6 linked regions of the Homo sapiens genome follow. The protein of the gene in region 1 purifies or fractionates together with the protein of each later gene. This does not show direct contact. Each region holds a gene or a part of one and is shown in the gene's direction. Other genes may lie near its edges. The genes, in order: PPIL3, SEPHS1, SUGT1, TMOD3, RPAP1 and RAD23B.

Region 1 (3,500 bases):
TAGGCAGGGAAATGACATCCAAAGTAATGACAACAGTCATAGTTTAAATATGCTGCTATCACGTTTTCAGTAAATATGATTGGTTTTTTGTCTTAACTGGGTTTCTGCTGCATCATTTCTCAATCATTTTTACTCCCTTCAGAATTTCTTGGCTCTTTGTGCCAGTAATTACTACAATGGCTGTATATTTCATAGGAATATCAAGGGTTTCATGGTTCAAACAGGAGATCCAACAGGTAAGTTATTCCATTAACCAAGATCTAAGGAACTGAATGTATAGTATGAAGAAGTGGGTAAAAGAAGAGGAATTAAATACGTGGAGTTTTTGTTTTGTTTTGTTTTGTTTAATAAGTTCTGTTCTACAAGTACAGAACATGCAGGTTTGTTACATAGGTATATGTGTGCCATGGTGGTTTGCTGCACCTATCAGCCTGTCCTCTAGGTTTTAAGCCCAGCATGCATTAGCTATTCGTCCTAATGCTCTCCCTCCCCTTGCCCCCACCCACAACTAGCCCTGCTGTGTGTTGTTCCCCTCCTTGTGTCCATGTGATCTCATTGTTCAACTCCCACTTATGAGTGAGAATATGCGGTGTTTGGTTTTCTGTTCCTGTGTTAGTTTGCTGAGAATGATGGCTTCCAGCCATCCATGTCCCTGCAAAGGACATGATCTCATCCTTTTTATGGCTGCATAGTATTACATGGTGCAATTTTAAAGCAGAAATTATTAGCACCTACCCCTAAAATGTGAACAATATTGTGCTCACTTTGGCAGCACATATACTAAAATTTGAACAATACAGAGAAGATTAGTGTGGCCCCTGCACAAGGATGAGACACAAATTTGTGAAGCTTTTCATACTTAAATATATATGAACAATATTTATAAGGAGGGTTATTCTTTTTTGTTTTTTGTAGGTCTGTTTTAATCTTCAGGTCTGTGAAGTTAAATTTGGGGAATTAGGAAAGGCCATATCAAATTTTATCTATATTTAAGCAGTCAAACTATAAAGTATTCCTTAAGTTTTGGGAAATGAACTTGTTTTCAATTTAATTAAATACTTCTTTTGATTTGCTTCACTTGTAATGTAGGAACTGGAAGAGGAGGCAACAGTATTTGGGGCAAGAAGTTTGAGGATGAATACAGTGAATATCTTAAGGTAAATCCTCAATGCTTTAAAAATCTATTTCTCATGCCTTGGTTATGCATGGAAACTTTGATACATGTGTCATAGTGATACAAGTTAACATCATTGCAAAATGAACATACTTTTTTATAGTTTTTGTACATTTGACAAATGATGTCGGGGAGACTTGAGAAATGGTGATCCTAGCCTGACATGTGTACTGGAATCCCACCACCACGTGGCTCTTGATAGTAAGTGAGTTCATCTTTGAATCTAACCTGAAATGTTTAACTAGTAGTGTACCAAAGAGACTTAATATCTCACCATAAAATTCATGTTGAATGACATGAAACAGTGGCCTTTTTTGAGAGTGGGGAGGAAAGACTATCAAACTTCCTGGTTGCAATGTTGCCCATTATCAGTACCCAGCTTTTATCATCTTCTGTTAGATGTTTGAACATCCCTGTATTAATATGACTTAATACCTATGGTAGATCACAACTAGGTTAAAGAGTAGTACATATAAATAGTCTTTAACATGGTAAAATTAGGGATTTTTAATTTTCTTTGTTATATTTTTCTGTGTTTTTCAAACCTCTGTGGAGTCATTTTTTTTTTTTGTCTAAAATTAAAAATTAGTGCATGCCTAGTTTTAAAAATCAATCCCACTTCCCAGAGATAACTTCAGTTGATGACTTATTATGTGGTCTTTCAAACTTTGTATCTCCATAGAATGATAACTTTATGATTAGAAAAAGAGCAATGAAGTATCCTCAACCAGGGCCGGGTACAGTAATCCCAGCACTTTGAGAAGCCCAGTAAGGAGGATTGCTTGAGGCCAAGAGTTTGAAACCAGCCTGGGCAACATAGTGAGACCCCCATCTCCACAAAAAAATACAAATATTAGCCTGTTATAGTGGCGTGTGCCTGTAGTCCCAGCTACTCAAGAGGCTGAAGTGGGAGGATTGCTTGAGCCCAGGAGATCAAGGCTGCAGTGAGCCAAGATCATGCACAGAACGAGACCCCACTCAAAAAAAAAAAAAAGTCTACTCAATCAAAATATGCAGTTTAAGTGTATTATTATATTTCCATTACATTAAAATGTACCCACAAAAATTCTGAAAAAAATTCATTGCAGTGTTTATCTCTGGATGATGAGACTAGGAGTAATTTCTTTTCTTTTTGCTTTTTTTAAAACCTTTTTTTAGAGACAGGGTCTTGTTCTGTCCCCTGGGCTGGAGTGCAGTGATGCATTCTTGGCTCACTGCAGACTAAATTTTCTGGGCTCAGGTGATCCTCCCACCTCAGCCTCCAGAGTAGCTGGGACTACAGGTGCATGTCACCATGCCTGGCTAATGTTTGTATTTTTTGTACAGATGGTGTCTCACTATGTTGCCCAAGCTGGTTCATTTTACTTTTCTATTGTAAGGAAATGTATTAGTTTTGTTACAGGAGTTGAGGCTGGGAGGTGATAAACTTTTTGAAAAGTCAACTTTTTCCTGAATGAATAACTAAACAATTTTTTAGGTATTAATTATTACATTAATGACTGCTTCCATATACCAGCTGAAAACCAGAGACTGGCTATGACAGAATCACCTGTGGAACTTTGTTGTTTGTTTTTGAGACTGGGTCTCACTCTGTTGCCTAAGCTGAGTGCAGTGGCCTGATCACGGTTCACTGCAGCCTTGACCTGAGCTCAAGCAGTTTCTCCTGCCTCAGCCTCTCAAGTGGCTGGACCACAGGAGTGCACCACCGTGCCCAGCTAATTTCTGATTTTTTGTAGAGACGAGGTCTTGCTCTGTTGCCCAGTCTGGTCTGAAACTCCTGGACTAAGATGATCCTCCTGTCTTGGCCTCCCAAAGTGTTGGGATTATAGGAGTGAGCCACTGCACTTGGCTGGAAGTTTTAAAACTATAACAGATCATGGCCTTGCCCTCCTAAAAATAAAGTCAGTAGGGCTGGTTAGGACTTAGACTATATTTTAAGGTTCCTAGATGATTCTTTTGCAGGCAGAGTTAAGAACCATTATATAGGCCGGGCGCGGTGGCTCACACCTGTAATCCCAGCACTTTGGGAGGCCGAGGCGGGCGGATCACGAGGGCAGGAGATCAAGACCATGCTGGCTAACACAGTGAAACCCCGTCTCTGCCAAAAAATACAAAAAATTAGCCAGGTGTGGTGGTGGGTGCCTGTAGTCCCAGCTACTTGGGAGGCTGAGGCAGGAGAATGGCCTGAACCCGGGAGGCAGTGCTTGCAGTGAGCCGAGATCGTGCTGCTGCACTCCAGTCTGGGCGACAGAGCGAGACTCCGTCTAAAAAAAAAAAAGAACCATTATATTATACACCTTATACACCAAGATTGTGGATATGTATT
Region 2 (3,500 bases), on another chromosome or scaffold:
GTGTCATGTGAACCTGCAGGCTGGCCCTCTTGCCACAGTTAAAACCACAGTCCAGATGTCAGATTTTACATAGATGTCTGTGCTGACGCAGTCCCGTTATGAAAAGATCTATTTTGTCATATGCACTGCTGTGGTGAATATAAGTGGTCTTGATGATTTCAGCCCTTGTCACATTGACTTTTCGCTGTCATGTATTCACTTGATTCGCTGGCAGGTCCCAGTGGGAATTCTTTTCATGGCATCTTTGTGTTTTGGTGACACCCAGGTGGATCCATAAAGAACCCAGCCAACCCGCAGAGGGAGGGGAGGGGCTGAGCTGTGAGGAGAGCGGGGCCCAAGAACCATGTCTACGCGGGAGTCCTTTAACCCGGAAAGTTACGAATTGGACAAAAGCTTCCGGCTAACCAGATTCACTGAACTGAAGGGCACAGGCTGCAAAGTGCCCCAAGATGTCCTGCAAAAATTGCTGGAATCTTTACAGGAGAACCACTTCCAAGAAGATGAGCAGTTTCTGGGAGCCGTTATGCCAAGGCTTGGTAGGTAACCCAGTGTTTCTTTGATGGTCTGCGATCCAATCAGTGAGTCAAAAACTGGATTTCTCGCCTCCCATGTTGCCTATTTATTTTTTATTATTACTTTTTTTGCTTTTATAGATTTGAGGAATACACATGCAGTTTTGTTACATGAATATATTACATAATGGTGAAGACTAGGCTTTTAGTGTAGCCATCACCCAAATAGTGTACATCGTACCCCCTTTATTTTTTTTTAATTTTTGTGGGAAGGATTAGAAGAGCAATCAATGTTATGATTGCTATGTTATGTTCTTGTAACTTATGTAGAGAAAGTACTTGAAACGCATCAAGAGGGGTACTCTTGACAGTTTTTAAATCATGGAGTATGCAATTGAGATTGTTATTACAGTAAAAACTTTTTAATTTTTATTTTCAATTTAATTGAATTGAATTTTCTGTTAGCTGAAGATTAAGCAGAAATACTTTATTCCCTTTTCCTAAAAGGACTCCTAAAATGCTCACATTCCCTTCATTGCCCTAGGAAAGGCGGTTCCAGCCTTAGGGTTCTTGTGCTGTACTTGGATGGCAGTGACTGTGTCAGGAGGGCATTGGGGTTCTCTGCAGGGTGCATCGGGCGAAAAGCGTGTTACGGTGAGGAGGTGGGACTGCTCCAGACCCAGGACTGGATGGATCTGTTCTTGACCCCAGGATGTCATCTGGAACCAGGGCAATGTCTTTTTCTTTACTACATTCCTGATGTCATGAGTGATTTCACTTTTCCCAAACACAGAGCTTAGAAACAAATTCTGGGCTCCTGGGATATTGTTTATTCATGTTTCTTGTGCAGTTTATTAAGTACACAGTACAAGACTGTGATCACTTTTCTTGTGTTCGACGCATAGTTTCGGAGGTTTGGATGTTCGATAATTACTGTGTGACTTGATCAGTTTTCTTCCTTTTTTTTTGAAATGGATTCTCACTCTGTCACCCAGGCTGGAGTGCAGTGGCGTGATCTTGGCTCACTGCAACCTCTGCCTCCTGGGTTCATGCGATTCTTCTGCCTCAGCCTCTTGAGTAGCTGGGATTATAGGCCCCTGCCACATGCCCGGCTAATTTTTGTATTTTTAGTAGAGATGGGAGTTTTACCATGTTGGCCAGGCTGTTCTCGAACTCCTGACCTCAGGTGATCTGCCTGCCTCAGCCTCCCAAAGTGCTGGGATTACAGGTGTAAGCCACCACACCCAGCCAAGGTTTTCATTTCATTTGTTTTTGCCCATTATTTGGTAAGGTTCATTGGTTATGAGCCTGGGGTCTCCTTTACTCCCAGATAGAGAAAGCAGATAAAAGCAGACTTGCTTTTGTTGGAAAGGAAGAAATGTTACACCCCAGTCGCTGGTGACCTGCAGGACTTTGAGGAGCTCAGTTTGAAAACAGTTCCTGCCGTCCAGCTGATGGCCAAGCTGTGGAGAAATACCATGTGAGCGAGCTGGGTTTGATGTTGGCTTATTTGTCGAGAAATGAGAATATACTGAGGAAGCTGTTAGATAACTGTCAAGAAAAAAAGCTATTAATACTTAATGCTCAAAAACCAATGAAATTAAAACATTACGGCATAAAGTAAGAATTACTATTTATAACTTCCTCTGGCACAGTTACTTACTAGTCACTCATATTATGTCATGAATGTCACCCAGCCCTCCTGAGCCTCAGCTTCCTAATCTATAAAATAATAATTACTGTTTGGGGTTGGGTGCGGTGGCTCACACCTGTAATCCCAGCACTTTGGGAGGTCAAGATGGGCAGATCACTCAAGGTCAGGAGTTCAAGACCAGCCTGGGCAAAATGGTGAAACCCATCTCTACTAAAAATACAAAAGTTACCTGGGCTTGCTGGTGTACACCTGTAGTTTCAGCTACTCGGGAGGCTGAGGTGGGAGGATCCCTTGAGCCCGGGAGGCAGAGGCTACAGTGAGCTGAGGTCACACCACTGTACTGCGGCCTGGGAGACAGAGTGAGACCCTGCCTCAAAAAAAAAAAAAAGATTACTGTTTTGCATTGTTGTACCAAAAATGTGTGTAGGTGTGCCATGTATGTCTGTACTTACATATATAATACATGTATGTGTATACCCTCTGTACACAAGTATATATGGTATATATGTATGGGTGTTTTTGACCTTTTTTTTGTTGTTGTTGAGATGAAGTCTCACTGTGTCGCCCAGGCTGGAGTGCAGTGGCACAATCTCAGCTCACTGCAACCTCCGCTTCCCAGGTTCAAGCAGTGATCTCCTGCCTCTGCCTCCCAAGTAGCTGGGACTACAGGCGCATGCCACCACACCCAGCTAAATTTTTTTGTGTTTTTAGTAGAGACGGGGTTTCAAGGTGTTGGCCAGGCTGGTCTCAAGCTCCTGAGCTCAGGTTATCCACCCACCTCAGCCTCCCAAAGTGCTGGGATTACAGGCGTGAGCCACCGCACCCGGCTGTATGTTTATTTTTTTAACTTTTTTTTTTTTTGAGACGGAGTCTCGCTCTGTCGCCCAGGCTGGAGTGCAGTGGCGCGATCTCCGCTCATTGCAAGCTCCGCCTCCCAGGTTCACGCCATCCTCCTGCCTCAGCCTCCCGAGTAGCTGGGACTACAGGCGCCCGCCACCATGCCTGGCTAATTTTTTGTATTTTTAGTAGAGACGGGGTTTCACAGTGGTCTCGATCTCCTGACCTCGTGATCCGCCTGCCTCGGCCTCCCAAAGTGCTGGGATTACAGGCGTGAGACACCGCGCCCCGCCATCTTTTTTTTTTTTTTTTCCTTGAGATAGAGTCTCACTCCATCACCCAGGCTTGAGTACAGTGGTGCAATCTCAGCTCACTGCAACCTCTGCCTCCCGGGTTCAAGGCCCTCCCAGGCCTGATTCTCATGCCTCAGCCTCCCTCCAAGTAGCTGGAATGACAGACGTGCACCACCACACCCAGCTAATTTTTTTGTATTTTTA
Region 3 (3,500 bases), on another chromosome or scaffold:
TAATTGTAGAAACCCAATACCTGTTTTTCTCATCTAAATTATATTTCATATTGATTGCAGATATGAGATCACTTAAAATCGATTAAATTAGCCTTTTGGCATTTAAATCATAGATGAACTTCACCATTAGAAGTAAAAAAAACTATGGAAACACCTAACATGCTCTCTCTGTTTAGTCTGGCTTTGTTTTTTTCTAATGGAGAAGTGAAAGTTTAATTTGCCTTGGTCAGAAGTCTGTTCATTTTAAATTATTCAGATTGCTGAGATGTGAAATCTTAACATTAAAGGTTTTTATGGAGAAGTGAAGTGTACGTTTGGGTAAATTATGAGAGGGTACAGAAGAAACACAGTTTTGAGAGTATTGTGACTTTTAATGTTATATTCTTGAGGGAATATATGAAAAGTATCACAGTGGTGTGGATATCTAGACATATAGAAATTGTGAGAGTCAAGAATATATATATATATATATATATATATTTTTTTTTTTTTTTTTTTTTTTTTTTTTTTTGAGACGGAGTCTCACTCTGTCGCCCAGGCTGGAGTGCAGTGGCGCGATCTCGACTCACTGCAAGCTCTGCCTCCCGGGTTCACGCCATTCTTCTGCCTCAGCCCCCCGAGTAGCTGGGACTACAGGCGACCACCACCACGCCCGGCCAATTTTTTTGTATTTTTAGTAGAGATGGGGTTTCACCATGTTAGCCAGGATGGTCTCAATCTCCTGACCTTGTGATCCACCCTCCTCGGCCTCCCAAAGTGCTGGGATTACAGGCATGAGCCACTGCACCCAGCCGAGAGCCAAGAATTTTTAAATCTGAAAAATACTAAGAGGTTGTGAGTAATTTCAGAAAATTGGAGACTACATAATCCTACTTGTATTATCATTTTATCTTTATGTTATGATAGAGTTTTATCACAGTTCTCTAAAGAAGTGGTTCTTAACTGGAAACGGTTTTGCTTCCCAGGAAACTTTATGCAATGTCTGAAGAGATTTTTGATAATCATGAATGGTGGATGGGGGTTGTGCTACTGACATCTAATGAGTATAAACCAGGGGTGCTACTAAATATTCTATAATGCCCAGGACAGTTCTGCCTAACAAAGAAGTATATGGTCCAAAATGTCAGTAGTGCTGAAATTAAGAAACTTCACTCTTAGTATTTTATGTTACATTCTTACTCTGTACTGTTTTGAATGTTTGCCTTTCTGTTGTGTACCTATTCAGAAAAAAGGATTTTAGCACTGATTATGCAAATGGAAGCTACAAATTAAAAAAGGAGAGGTCTGGGTGATAAGGCTTATTCTCAAACTTGCTTATCCCAGTTTTGGTATGTGAATAGTAGGCCTATTCAGTCAGCAAACAGGACATCTGCACTCTTAGCAAATTCTAGAGTGAAGTTATGTAGTGCCTTGGTACCTAATGTGAAAATCCTGAAGAAACATGAGTCATACCATTCTCTACATTTTCATTTTTCTTTCTTTTTTTAGCGAGAGAAGGTCTCGCTCTGTCGCCCAGGCTGGAGTGCAGTGGTGCGATCTTGGGTCACTGCAGCCTCCACCTCTTGGGCTCAAGTGATCCTCCCACCTCAGCCTCCTGAGTAACTGGGGCTACAGGCACATGCCACCACACCTGACTAATTTTTGCATTTTATTTTTTGCAGAGATGGGGATTTGCCATGTTGCCCAGGCTGGTCTTGAACTCCTGGACTCAAGCGTTCTGCCTGCCTCGGCCTCTGAAAGTGCTGGGGTTACAGGCATGAGCCACTGCGTCTGGCCCCTAGATTATTTTCTTGAGTAATATCTTAATATCATGCCATTGACATTTATTCTTTAGTTATTTCAGAGGTGGCCTTCAGAGGAAGACCTGTTTGGTAAAATTGCTGTTGAGGATATTTTACTTAAAAATAAATTTGTCTTTAAATCCAGGAAACTTTTTTTGTTGTTGTTTTTTGGGGTTTTTTTTTGTTTTTGTTTGTTTGTTTGTTTGTTTCTTTTTTTGAGACTGAGTCTCACTGTGTTGTCCAGGCCATAGTGCAGTTCTCTGTCTCTCAAGTTCAGGTGATTCTCCTGCCTCAACCTCCTGAGCAGCTGGGACTACAGGCATGCACCACCAAGCCTGGCTAATTTTTGTATTTTTAGTAGAGACGGGGTTTCATCGTGTTGGCCAGGCTGGTCTCCAACTCTTGACCTCAAGTGATCCACCTGCCTTGGACTCCCAAAGTGCTGGGATTACAGGTATGAGCCACCATGCCCGGCCAAAATCTGGGAAAAAGTTAAGTTAAACTTTTAGGCTTCTATTTTTATCAGACAGGGTAAAGAATTGTTACCTTTTCCCCTCTTTGTGTGATAAATTGCTTGGTTTTAGTTACTGATTACTTAAAATAATAGGTTACTCAAATCTTTTTGATATAATAGATTTTGATACAATAGTTCTCTAGAATACAGTGTGTGTGAGAGTGTATTTAAATTTTTTATTAATGCTGGTATAGTTGGATTTCTTTTATAAATTAGTAAAGTAGAAATTTTTGTTAAGAAATTTTTAATTTAAGATTTTCAAATTTATCTTGTCTGCAGTTAACTTGAATTAATAAGCTCTTATTTAGAGTACTTTTAATACTTTTAACATATCTTACTATGCACTGTGACTGTTTAAATGTAATCATTGTTCTGTGTCTCCAGAAGTGAATAATTTGTTTATGCATACATTTACACTGTTATCTATAAATATATAATACATCACCTATAGCCTCTCGACTGCCATGTAACTTGGAGATAGGACAAAACTTCACGGAATTTAAAGATGCTTGGTGTTGGTAGGAAAGGCATGGTAACAGATAAAGCCACTGAGAGAATAGTGGACTGAATAGGTATCTGCATTGAAGAGCAAGCTGGGGCTGGGAACGGCTTTTGAACCTCAACTCAGCTCCCAGTTACCAAGCCTCCTCCCCACCCTAACTGATGGCATATTGGGAGTCTGATTTACATCTGATTTTGTTCTGTGTGTGAGGAAGCTTCTCTAAGAGCAGCGGGATTGGGGGAAATGCAGATTATTTGTATCTGTGAAATTAAGGTTGACTGTAGTTAAAATTTTTAAAAAATCAAAATGTTTCATGATTAACAACTAAATGTTAAACTATTGGTATATTTATAACTATAGTAGAGTTGGTGATAAGGTCTGTTAAGACAGGTTTTGTTCGCTGCCGACTCCCCAGTGCCTAGAACACTGCCTGGGATGTAGTAGGTATTCAGTAAGTATTTGTTGATTTATAGGTTGTGCAGATGAGTGATGTTATAGTCAGTTTTTTCTTTCTAGGTGCAGATGCTAATTTCAGTGTCTGGATTAAAAGGTGTCAAGAAGCTCAGAATGGTATGTGGGTCTCCCTTGGTATTTGTTTCAATTTAAAAAGAAGTAAACATCTGAAATTTTTTTGGTTTAAACAAATTTGTTTTTATCTTTATAATTTCTTTTAAATAGTATACGTTTCCTTAGATGTGGACTT
Region 4 (3,500 bases), on another chromosome or scaffold:
TCTCTCCTTCAAGTAGTGTAGGGTTAATCTCTCTTAGTGCTTTGTAGCTTAAACTAAGTGACTGAGAACAGTCTGTCTGCCTCAGGAATCGTACTCATCAGAGATGGACTCCTTCATTTCTTTCCTTGTAGAAAAGTAAATCCACTTTTATTTTCATATAAAAAGAATAATGAAGGCTGGGTGCAGTGACTCATGCCTGTAATCCCAGCACTTTGGGAGGCCGAGGAGGGTGGATCACCTGAGGTCAGGAGTTCGGGACCAGCCTGACCAACATGATGAAACCCCATCTCTCCTAAAAATACAAAATTAGCTGGACCTGGTGGTGCATGCCTGTAATCTCAGCTACTTGGGAGGCTGAGGCAGGAGGGTTGCTTAAACCTGGGAGATAGAGGTTGCAGTGAGCTGAGATTGCGCCGTTGCACTCCAACCTGGGCAACAAGAGCAAAACTCTGTCTCAAAATACATAAATAAATAAAAGGAATAATGAAAGGTGAGAATAATGAGAATTTTTTTTAACCTAAATGCTAGAGAAATGGTGATATGTGCTCTGCTCTGAGTCAGTAGTTTATGCAAATGCTCCATCGTAGATAAGTCAGATAATTATGGAGGAAGCTGCATTATTTGTATTCATTTGTAGACTAATTCTTAGGTGTTTGTATAATTTCTGAATACATTTTAAAGCAAAAAAAACCATATATTTGATTAATGGAAACTAAATATAATGAAAATTGAAATGTAATGATGTTTTATGTTATTGTCTTTCAAGAATATCCCAATTCCAACCCTAAAAGATTTTGCAAAGGCTTTGGAAACCAACACACATGTGAAATGTTTCAGTCTTGCAGCCACCCGGAGCAATGACCCTGTTGCTACTGTAAGTAAGCGACTTGAGAATATCAAAATTATGACATGCCCAGGGTGTGTTACAGTGGTGATTTTTATGAACAAGATTTACCCCTTTTTTATAGTTAATGTTTTAGCTCACTATTAGGCAGTATATTACTTACCAGCTTTTTGTGTTTATTTTTTCCTGTATTTCCTTCCTATGAATTTTTTCCCCCTCCCAGCTTCCCCCTCCTTCCTATGAATTTTTTAAAACATAAATGGAATCATGTAGTATATGCTGTTCTGCAACTTGATTTTTCACTCTGCAGTTTATCTTTAAAGTTTTGTTGTATCAATACATAGGGATCTACCACATTATTTTAACATCTTCAGAGGATTCCATTTATGGATCCTTAGTGGTGGATTTTTGTTAAATGCTTTTGCTGTGTCTCTTGAGATGTTCATATGGTTTTTGTCCTTTATTCTGTCAATGTGGTGTATTGATTGACTTTTATATGTTGAACCAGCCTTTCATTCCTGAGATAAATCCCACTTGATCATGGTATAAACCTTTTGTTTCATTGGCTTTGAGAATATCACTCACTCCCTTGGGGGCTCCCCTTACCTCAGTGGACATTCCTTCTCAAAGCCCTGTACTGGTTTCTCCATATCTCTTCAACTTCTAAATATTGGAATGGCCCAGAACGTGGTCCTTCTTTTCTCAGTCTACACTGACTTTCTGGGTAATCTCAGAAATATATATATTATCTTCATATACTTGCTGATGACTCCCAGTGTTATTATCTACAGTTTGTATCTCTCTCCTGAACTCCGTATTCATGTCCAGCTACCTCCTCAGCAGCTTTACTTGGATGTCTAATGGACATCTTACATGTAAGTCCTCAAACTCCTGACTTCCATCCTGTGCCTGCTTTTCTCTGCTGTTTTCTATCTTACTAAATGCAATTTCAATCTTTCATTGCTCAGGCAAACAAAAAAAAAAAATTTTTTTTTTTTTTTTTTTTGAGACAGCGTCTCACTCTGTTGCCCCGGCTAGAGTGCAGTGGCGCAATCTCGGCTCACTGCAACCTCCGCCTCCCGGGTTCAAGCGATTCTCCTGCCTCAGCCTCCTGAGTAGCTGGGATTACAGGCATGCGCCACCACGCCTGGCTAATTTTTGTATTTATAGTAGAGATGTGGTTTCACCATATTGGCCAGGCTGGTCTCGAGCTCCTGACCTTGTGATCCGCCCACCTCAACCTCCCAAAGTGCTAGGATTACAGGCGTGAGCCACCACGCCCAGCAAAAAAAAAAAAAAAAACAAAAAACTAATGGAATCATTCTCGACATCCCTTTCTTGCAACTTAAACCTACCTTTGGCCCTATCTTCAAAATATTTCAGAATCCAACCACTTCTCACCATTTTCACAACTACCACCTTGACCCAAGCCACCATCTTTTCCCACCTGGATTATTGCAACAGCCTCCTAATTGGGTTACCTTCATCTATTTTACCTACCCCAAAGTCAGTTCTTTACATAGCACCAAGAGTGATTCTTTTAAAACTTAAGTTAAATGACCTCATTCCTATTCGGATAACCCTCTAGCAGCTTCCCATCTCATTAAGAGTAAAAATAAAAATCTTTCAGTGGCCTTATAAGGCTTCACATGAGTGGACTTCATCTCATTTACTTGCCCTTTCTTTCATTCTACTCTAGCCATACAGCCTTCTTCAGCATGCCATGTGGACTCCCAAATCAGGGCCTGTACATTTGTTCCTTCTGCCTTGAACTTTCTTCCTAAAATAATCCACTTAGCTTTGTCTTATCACTTTGACTCTTTGCTCAAATGTCACCTTCTAGTTGAGGCTTTTCCTGACCGTGCTATATAAAATACCAACCCCATTCCCACCCCCAGTATTCCCCATCTACCCTATTGTGCCTTTTTTCTTTTTACCCTCTAACATTGCACTTTGCTTACTTTTATTATCTGTGTCCCTCCCCAGCTAGAATGAACATTCTGCCAGGCAGGGACCAATGTGTTTTATCTCTGAATCTCTAGGACAGTGCTAATCAAATAATAGACCATCAGTAATATTCGAATACATGTATGGATAAGGGATTTGTTCCAGGTCACATAGCTAGTTGTTGCTAATAGAAAGGACAAGTATGTAGATACCAGCCACAGTTTTTTTAGTATCTCTACGCCCTATTGCCTTTCCTTTAACTTTAAGCTTGGTCTTACCCATATTTTCTGTAGTTTAACCTTGCTTTTGATCCCTCTAAGGGGCTGTTTTATATAAACTCATGATCATTGTTCTTTTTTCTCTCTCTTTCCTTCCCCTCCTTCCTTCCCTTCTTCTCTCTTCCTACCTCTGTCTCTTTTTCTTTCCTTCCCAGTCTCCCTCCTCTTTCTTTTTTCACTTGTAGGCTTCTGTTAATTAATCAATATGGTACTTATTAAGCACTGAGTCAAATGTCTAACACTGTACTGTATCCTATGAGAAATGAAATAGAAGCAGATTGAAGACATACCATTACTTGAGGAATTTAATATTTTATTAGCCCCTTCTTCTCAATGGCCTTTGTGCTCTTCTGGTTCTGGTTATCTGTGTTCTTTTCTGGCCTTCTGCCTTGACCATTTCTTTTGGCCCCTGCCTTGGAAATTAGTACATA
Region 5 (3,500 bases), on another chromosome or scaffold:
TTAGTAGAGGTAGGGTTTCTCCATGTTGGTCAGGCTGGTCTCGAACTCCCAACCTCAGGTGATCTGCCCTCCTCGGCCTCCCAAAGTGCTAGGATTACAAGCATGAGCCACCATGCCCGGCCTTTTTTTTTTTTTGAGATGGAGTTTCGGTCTTGTTGCCCAGGTTAGAGTGCAATGGCGCGACGTAGGCTCACTGCAACCTCCGCCTCCTGGGTTCAAATGATTCTCCTGCCTCAGCCTCCTGAGTATCTGGGATTACAGGTGCCCACCACCATACCCAACTAATTTTTGTATTTTTAGTAGAGACGGAGTTTCACCATGTTGGCCAGGCTGGTGTCGAACTCCTGACCTCAGGTGATCCACTGGCCTTGGCCTCCCAAAGTGCTGGAGCCACTGCGCCTAGGTTTTTTTTTTTTTTTAAGACGGATTTTTCCTCTTGTTGCCCAGGCTGGAGTGCAATGGCGCAATCTCTGCTCACTGCAACCTCTGCCTCCCAGGTTCAAGCAATTCTCCTGTCTCAGCCTCCAAAGTAGCTGGGATTACAGGCGCCTGCCACCATGCCTGGCTAATTTTTTTATTTTTTGTATTTTTAGTAGAGACGGGGTTTCCCTGTATTGGCCAGGCTGGTTTCGAACTCTTGACCTCAGGTGGATCAAAGTGCCTCCCAAAGTGCTGGGATTACAGGTGTGAGCCACCGTGCCTGGCCCCCAGCGAATTTCTTTTAAGGTTTTTGTAGAGATGAGGTCTCACTATATTGCACAGGTTGGTTTTTGTTTTTTGTTTTTTGTTTTCAGAGTCTCCCTCTGTCACCCAGGCTGGAGTGGAATGGCACGATCTCGGCTCACTGCAACCTCTGCCTCCCAGGTTCAAGTGATTCTTGTGCCTCAGCCTTTTCAGCAGCTGGAATTAGAGGTGTGTACCACCATGCTTGGCTAATTTTTTTTATTTTCAGTAGAGATGGGGTCTCACCATGTTGGCCAGGCTAGTTTCGAACTCCTGGCATCAAGTGATCCACCGACCTCAGCCTCCCAAAGTGCTGGGATTACAGGCATGAGCCACCGTGCCTGACCTTTAATGCATTATTCAGTTCTGTCCTTAAACTTGTCCTGTGAGGTAGGTGGTATTAACCCTATTTTACTTATGAAAGAAACTGAGGCCTAAAATTTAAAAGAAATTCTACCCAGGTCACACACCTTATAAGAAGCACAGGACACAGGATTTAAACCCAGATCTACCTGGTCTCATATGCCCTGCTTTTTTTTTTTTTTTTTTTTTTTTTGAGACGGAGTCTCGCTCTGTTGTCCTGGGTGGAGTACAGTGACACGATCTCAGCTCACTGCAACCTGTACCTCCCTAGTTCAAGCGATTTTCCTGCCTCAGCCTCCTGAGTAGCTGGGATTACAGATGTGCACCACCACACCCAGCTAATTTTTTTGTATTTTTAGTAGAGATGGGTTTCACCATGTTGGCCAGGCTGGTCTTGAACTCCTGACCTCCAGCGACCCATCTGCCTCGGCCTGCTGAAGTGCTGCGATTTTTTTTTTGAGATGGTCACCGTGCCCAGCCGAGGCCCTACTTTTTAACCACTGTGCTATGTATAACTGTACTACCCTGGTATAGTATACACTATGCTTTATTATAGCTATACTCTAGTATATGTATAGTCTCTTCTACTCTGTGATACTGTTCTATGCTATGCCTCACCCCTAGTGTCTGTTCACCAAAATGCCAGGCACTCAGTCAATCTTGTTACCCACTGTATACTAGCACCTCTATAGAGTATAATACGTGTTAGGGCTCAGTATGGTGCCTTGCCCTGTAATTCCAGCACTTTGGGAGGTTGAGGTGAGAGGATTGCTTGAGGCCAAGAGTTTACGACCAGCTTGAGGAACATCATGAGACCCCATCTCTACAAAAAATAAAGATATAAAAAATTACAGCCAGGTGTGGAGGCTCACGCCTGTAATCCCAGCACTTTGGGAGGCTGAGGTGGGCGGATCACAAGATCAAGACATTGAGACCATCCTGGCCAACACGGTGAAACCCTGTCTCTACTAAAAATACAAAAATTAGCTGGGCGTGGTGGCACACGCCTGTAGTCCCAGCTACTCGGGAGGCTGAGGCAAGAAAATCACTTGAACCCGGGAGGCGGACCTTGCAGTGAGCCGAGATCGTGCCATGGCACTCCAGCCTGGGCGACAGAGTGAGACTCTGTCTCAAAAAAAAAAAAAAAAATTAGCCAGATATGGTGGTGCATGCCGGTAGTCCCAGTTACTTGGGAGGCTGAGGCGGGAGGATTGCTTGAGCCCAGGAGTTTGAGGCTGTGGTGAGCTACGATTGTGCCACTGCACTCCAGCATGGGTAACAGAGCAAGACCCTATCTCTTTAAAAATATATATTTACAGCCTGAGCAACATGGTAAAACCCCGTCTCTAGTAAAAATACAAAAATTAGCCAGGCGTGGTGGCAGGCACTTTTAATCCCAGCTACTCAGGAGGCTGAGGCAGGAGAATCCCTTGAACCTGGGAGATGGAGGTTGCAGTAAGTTGAGATTGCACCACTGCACTCCAGCCCGGGCGACACAGCGAGATTCCGTCTCAAAAAAAAAAAAAAAAAAAAAAAAAAAAAAATATATATATATATATATATATATATATGTGTGTGTGCATAAATAAATTAGCTAAGAGAAGGAAATTCTTTCTGTAAATGCCTTCTTTTTGGCCCTAGTCAACATTAACTTATTCATTCTACAGCCACTTACATTGGAACTGTGACCTGAAACCAAAGGGATAGGCATAGGAACCTGGGCCAGTGGACTGTGAGGGATAGAGGGAAAGGTGGGCAGGTGGGCAGGTGGGCCTAGTGACCCCACAGGTGTGAGAAGGCTGGGTCATTGATGGGCCACAGGAGCACCCAGAAGGCTCAGGCCCAGGCTCGGAAGCAGCTTGTCCTGTCCTTGGCACCCACAGACAGGCGATATTCAGCGGGTTCCAGGTCTGTAGGAGGCCAGGGAGGATCTACCCTCACTCACTCTCCCCTCTACCTTCGCCTCTAGACCCCAGCTTGGTTGCTTTCTTGAGATCTCACAGCCACACGCAAGAGCAAACAGGAGAGACAGCCTCTGAGGAGCAGAGGCCAGGAGGACCCTCTGCTAATGTCACCAAGGAGGAACCCCTCATGTCAGCTTTTGCCAGTGAGCCCAGGAAGAGAGACAAGCTGGAGCCAGAAGCCCCAGGTTTGCAGGAGGCGGGGGTCATATTTTGGTGGATAAAAGTAGGGGAAATTGTCCCTTTTCCTAGGCCTGGCAAATGAGAGAAGAGAGAAGCTTCTGTGCTTTTGGACATCTAACATTAATCCTCATTATTGGCTTCAAGTCAGTCTTCATTGCTGATGCATGTCTTCTTCCTGCACATGCTTCCTGTTTTCTTGTCCTGTTACTGCCCCTTCTCCGCCTTCCCTTTTAAGAGGCAGCAATGCGTGATGGCTGAATCCCACTCCAC
Region 6 (2,206 bases), on another chromosome or scaffold:
AATTAGCACTTTTGGGGCCAATGGAGAAATGCAGCATTCACTCTCCCTGTCTTTTCCCCTTCCCTCAGCAGAAACGTGTTTATCAGCAAGTCGTGAGTCAAACTGCTGCCTTTTAAAAAACCCACAAAATGCTGATTCAGTTCAAAATTAATGCAAATGTTTCAAAACTGGGTTTCTGATATTTGTAAATGTGTTTCTTTATTAGATAAGAGTGTATTACCATTAAAGTCATTAGTATAATATTGCTTTCAAAAAGAAATGGTAGACAAAACTATAATCCAGCATCTTTTATTGCATTGGAAAGACTGGCAAAGTCTTTTGGATGGGTTGGGAGATGTGGCTGGAAAGTACTTTGGAAAATATACAATCAAGATATCTCATGGCATATTAAAAGAAAAATCTTAATAGCAGTGTTGGCTTTTATTTGGATTTTTTCATCTCAGTTTTTTCTGTGGAATCTCCTTCATTGGCATTGTTATTTAATCATAAACGGGGCAGATGTCTACTTGTTCAGTTTTTCAAATCTGTTTTCCTGAGTATAAATAAGAGTATTTAAAGAAATAATTTGGATTGCTTTTGTTTTTTGTTTCCTTTTTTTTAACCATCTGATACTAAGAAGATGAATTTGCACAGATTTCTCTGCATAATTTCTCAATATCTTTAGCACAGTATGGTGATGATGACTTTTAAGCATTTACATCACGTACTCATAACCTATTATGAAAATAAATGAAACTGGCTGGGTATGGTGGCTCATGCCTATAATCCCAGCACTTTGGGAGGCCGAGGTGGGCAGATCACTTGAGGCCAGGAGATTGAGACCAGCCTGACCGTCATGGCGAAACCCCGTCTATACTAAAAATACAAAAAATAGCCAGGCATGGTGGCGCACGCCTGTGGTCCCAGCTACTTGGGAGGCTGAGGCATGAGAATTGCTTGAACCCGGGAAGTGAAGGTTGCCGTGAGCTGAGATCACACCACTGCCATAAACATGACAGGCTTTTGGACTTTGTATTACCTGTATGTTTTATAATGGATCATGCATAATTTCTCAGGAGAATAAAATGAGAATTCATATATACGTTCATCTTTCAAGTCAGAGCAATGAGTTGGGAAAAGAGGTGGCATTTCTGATCGGATAATGGAATACTCTCATTTATTTTATGACATTCTCTGTCTACTCAGATCATAGTGAAAACTGGAAACAAAAAAAAAAAACAGCCTCTTCTTGGAAAGTGACAGCAGAAGGTGGCATGGAGCTTGTGTCCTTGGACAACAAATCTGGATATACTAGGATTAATTATCAGAAGACAGCTCAGGCCAAGTTTTGATCGTTCCATACAGTACCTTGTTTATCTGCTTCTTAAAGAATCAGCCGAGACACCATAAAAGAAATAGGCTTTTTGTGCCTTTTGCTGTTAATGTTTAATTTACAAACTGTTTTGGTAAATCTCTTAATGTAAGTAGCTATTTGACTTTGGAATTTTGCATTCGAGGTATACTGTCATTTCTTGAAATCTTTTTCTCGTTTAGTTGCTCTGTGGGAAATGTGAGGAAGCCTAAGTTTGTATTTGTAAATTTCTTATGCCATCCTCTAGTCAAATTTTTTTTCATTGTTTAAAAATACGGAAGTGTTCCAATATAATTTTTTCCTGTACTGGATGGCTAGGATTCTAGAGAATTGATTATAAAATATTTTCAATACATCCAACATTGCACTTCTCATTTTTTAAATGATTCTGTCACGTAGAATCAGAATTGAAAGTTGACAATGCTTCTGTCACTGATACTTCTTTTTACTTCAGTAATTGGTGAGTGTATCATATAGGAGGCCCAGGCACTAGATTGACTTTATTGGGTCTCCTGGTTCTTTTCTCAACACAGAGATGGGATACTTGCTGGGATGTTAAGGTTAGTGAGGTCTTCTAGGGAATGCATAAAATTTCCATTGTTCCATACTTGTCTGAAGCAGCCAGCCAAAGCCTGCTGCAAAATGTTCTACCGAAAGTAAGCAATTGGAGGGAATGAGTGTTCCTGACCCAGTCAGTTCTGGTGGATTCTCCAGCCATGAAGTTCAGTTGGCCTCCCCCATCCATTTTCCCCATTTTTTCCCCCTAAGCCAAGGGCTGGCAAACTACAGCTTCATGAGCCAAATCTGGCATATACCTGTTATGTGGTCCATGAACTAAGAGTGATCTTTACATTT

Evidence for each region.
Region 2: the proteins of PPIL3 (region 1) and SEPHS1 fractionate together in Homo sapiens (co-fractionation; one large-scale study listed by BioGRID). This does not show direct contact.
Region 3: the proteins of PPIL3 (region 1) and SUGT1 fractionate together in Homo sapiens (co-fractionation; one large-scale study listed by BioGRID). This does not show direct contact.
Region 4: the proteins of PPIL3 (region 1) and TMOD3 fractionate together in Homo sapiens (co-fractionation; one large-scale study listed by BioGRID). This does not show direct contact.
Region 5: the proteins of PPIL3 (region 1) and RPAP1 fractionate together in Homo sapiens (co-fractionation; one large-scale study listed by BioGRID). This does not show direct contact.
Region 6: the proteins of PPIL3 (region 1) and RAD23B fractionate together in Homo sapiens (co-fractionation; one large-scale study listed by BioGRID). This does not show direct contact.

The regions. Positions count from the first base shown.
Region 1 is NC_000002.12:200,879,078-200,882,577, reverse strand, and holds part of PPIL3 (peptidyl-prolyl cis-trans isomerase-like 3), read left to right. Parts: intron 1-142; coding exon 143-236; intron 237-1,089; coding exon 1,090-1,157; intron 1,158-3,500. UniProt on the Homo sapiens protein: PPIases accelerate the folding of proteins. It catalyzes the cis-trans isomerization of proline imidic peptide bonds in oligopeptides. May be involved in pre-mRNA splicing.
Region 2 is NC_000010.11:13,341,794-13,345,293, reverse strand, and holds part of SEPHS1 (selenide, water dikinase 1), read left to right. Parts: intron 1-265; 5' UTR 266-343; coding exon 344-536; intron 537-3,500. UniProt on the Homo sapiens protein: Synthesizes selenophosphate from selenide and ATP.
Region 3 is NC_000013.11:52,659,336-52,662,835, forward strand, and holds part of SUGT1 (protein SGT1 homolog), read left to right. Parts: intron 1-2,139; coding exon of another isoform or gene 2,140-2,235; intron 2,236-3,313; coding exon 3,314-3,367; intron 3,368-3,500. UniProt on the Homo sapiens protein: May play a role in ubiquitination and subsequent proteasomal degradation of target proteins.
Region 4 is NC_000015.10:51,895,653-51,899,152, forward strand, and holds part of TMOD3 (tropomodulin-3), read left to right. Parts: intron 1-766; coding exon 767-874; intron 875-3,500. UniProt on the Homo sapiens protein: Blocks the elongation and depolymerization of the actin filaments at the pointed end. The Tmod/TM complex contributes to the formation of the short actin protofilament, which in turn defines the geometry of the membrane skeleton.
Region 5 is NC_000015.10:41,530,758-41,534,257, reverse strand, and holds part of RPAP1 (RNA polymerase II-associated protein 1), read left to right. Parts: intron 1-3,055; coding exon 3,056-3,235; intron 3,236-3,500. UniProt on the Homo sapiens protein: Forms an interface between the RNA polymerase II enzyme and chaperone/scaffolding protein, suggesting that it is required to connect RNA polymerase II to regulators of protein complex formation.
Region 6 is NC_000009.12:107,330,484-107,332,689, forward strand, and holds the end of RAD23B (UV excision repair protein RAD23 homolog B), read left to right. Parts: 3' UTR 1-1,706; downstream 1,707-2,206. UniProt on the Homo sapiens protein: Multiubiquitin chain receptor involved in modulation of proteasomal degradation. Binds to polyubiquitin chains.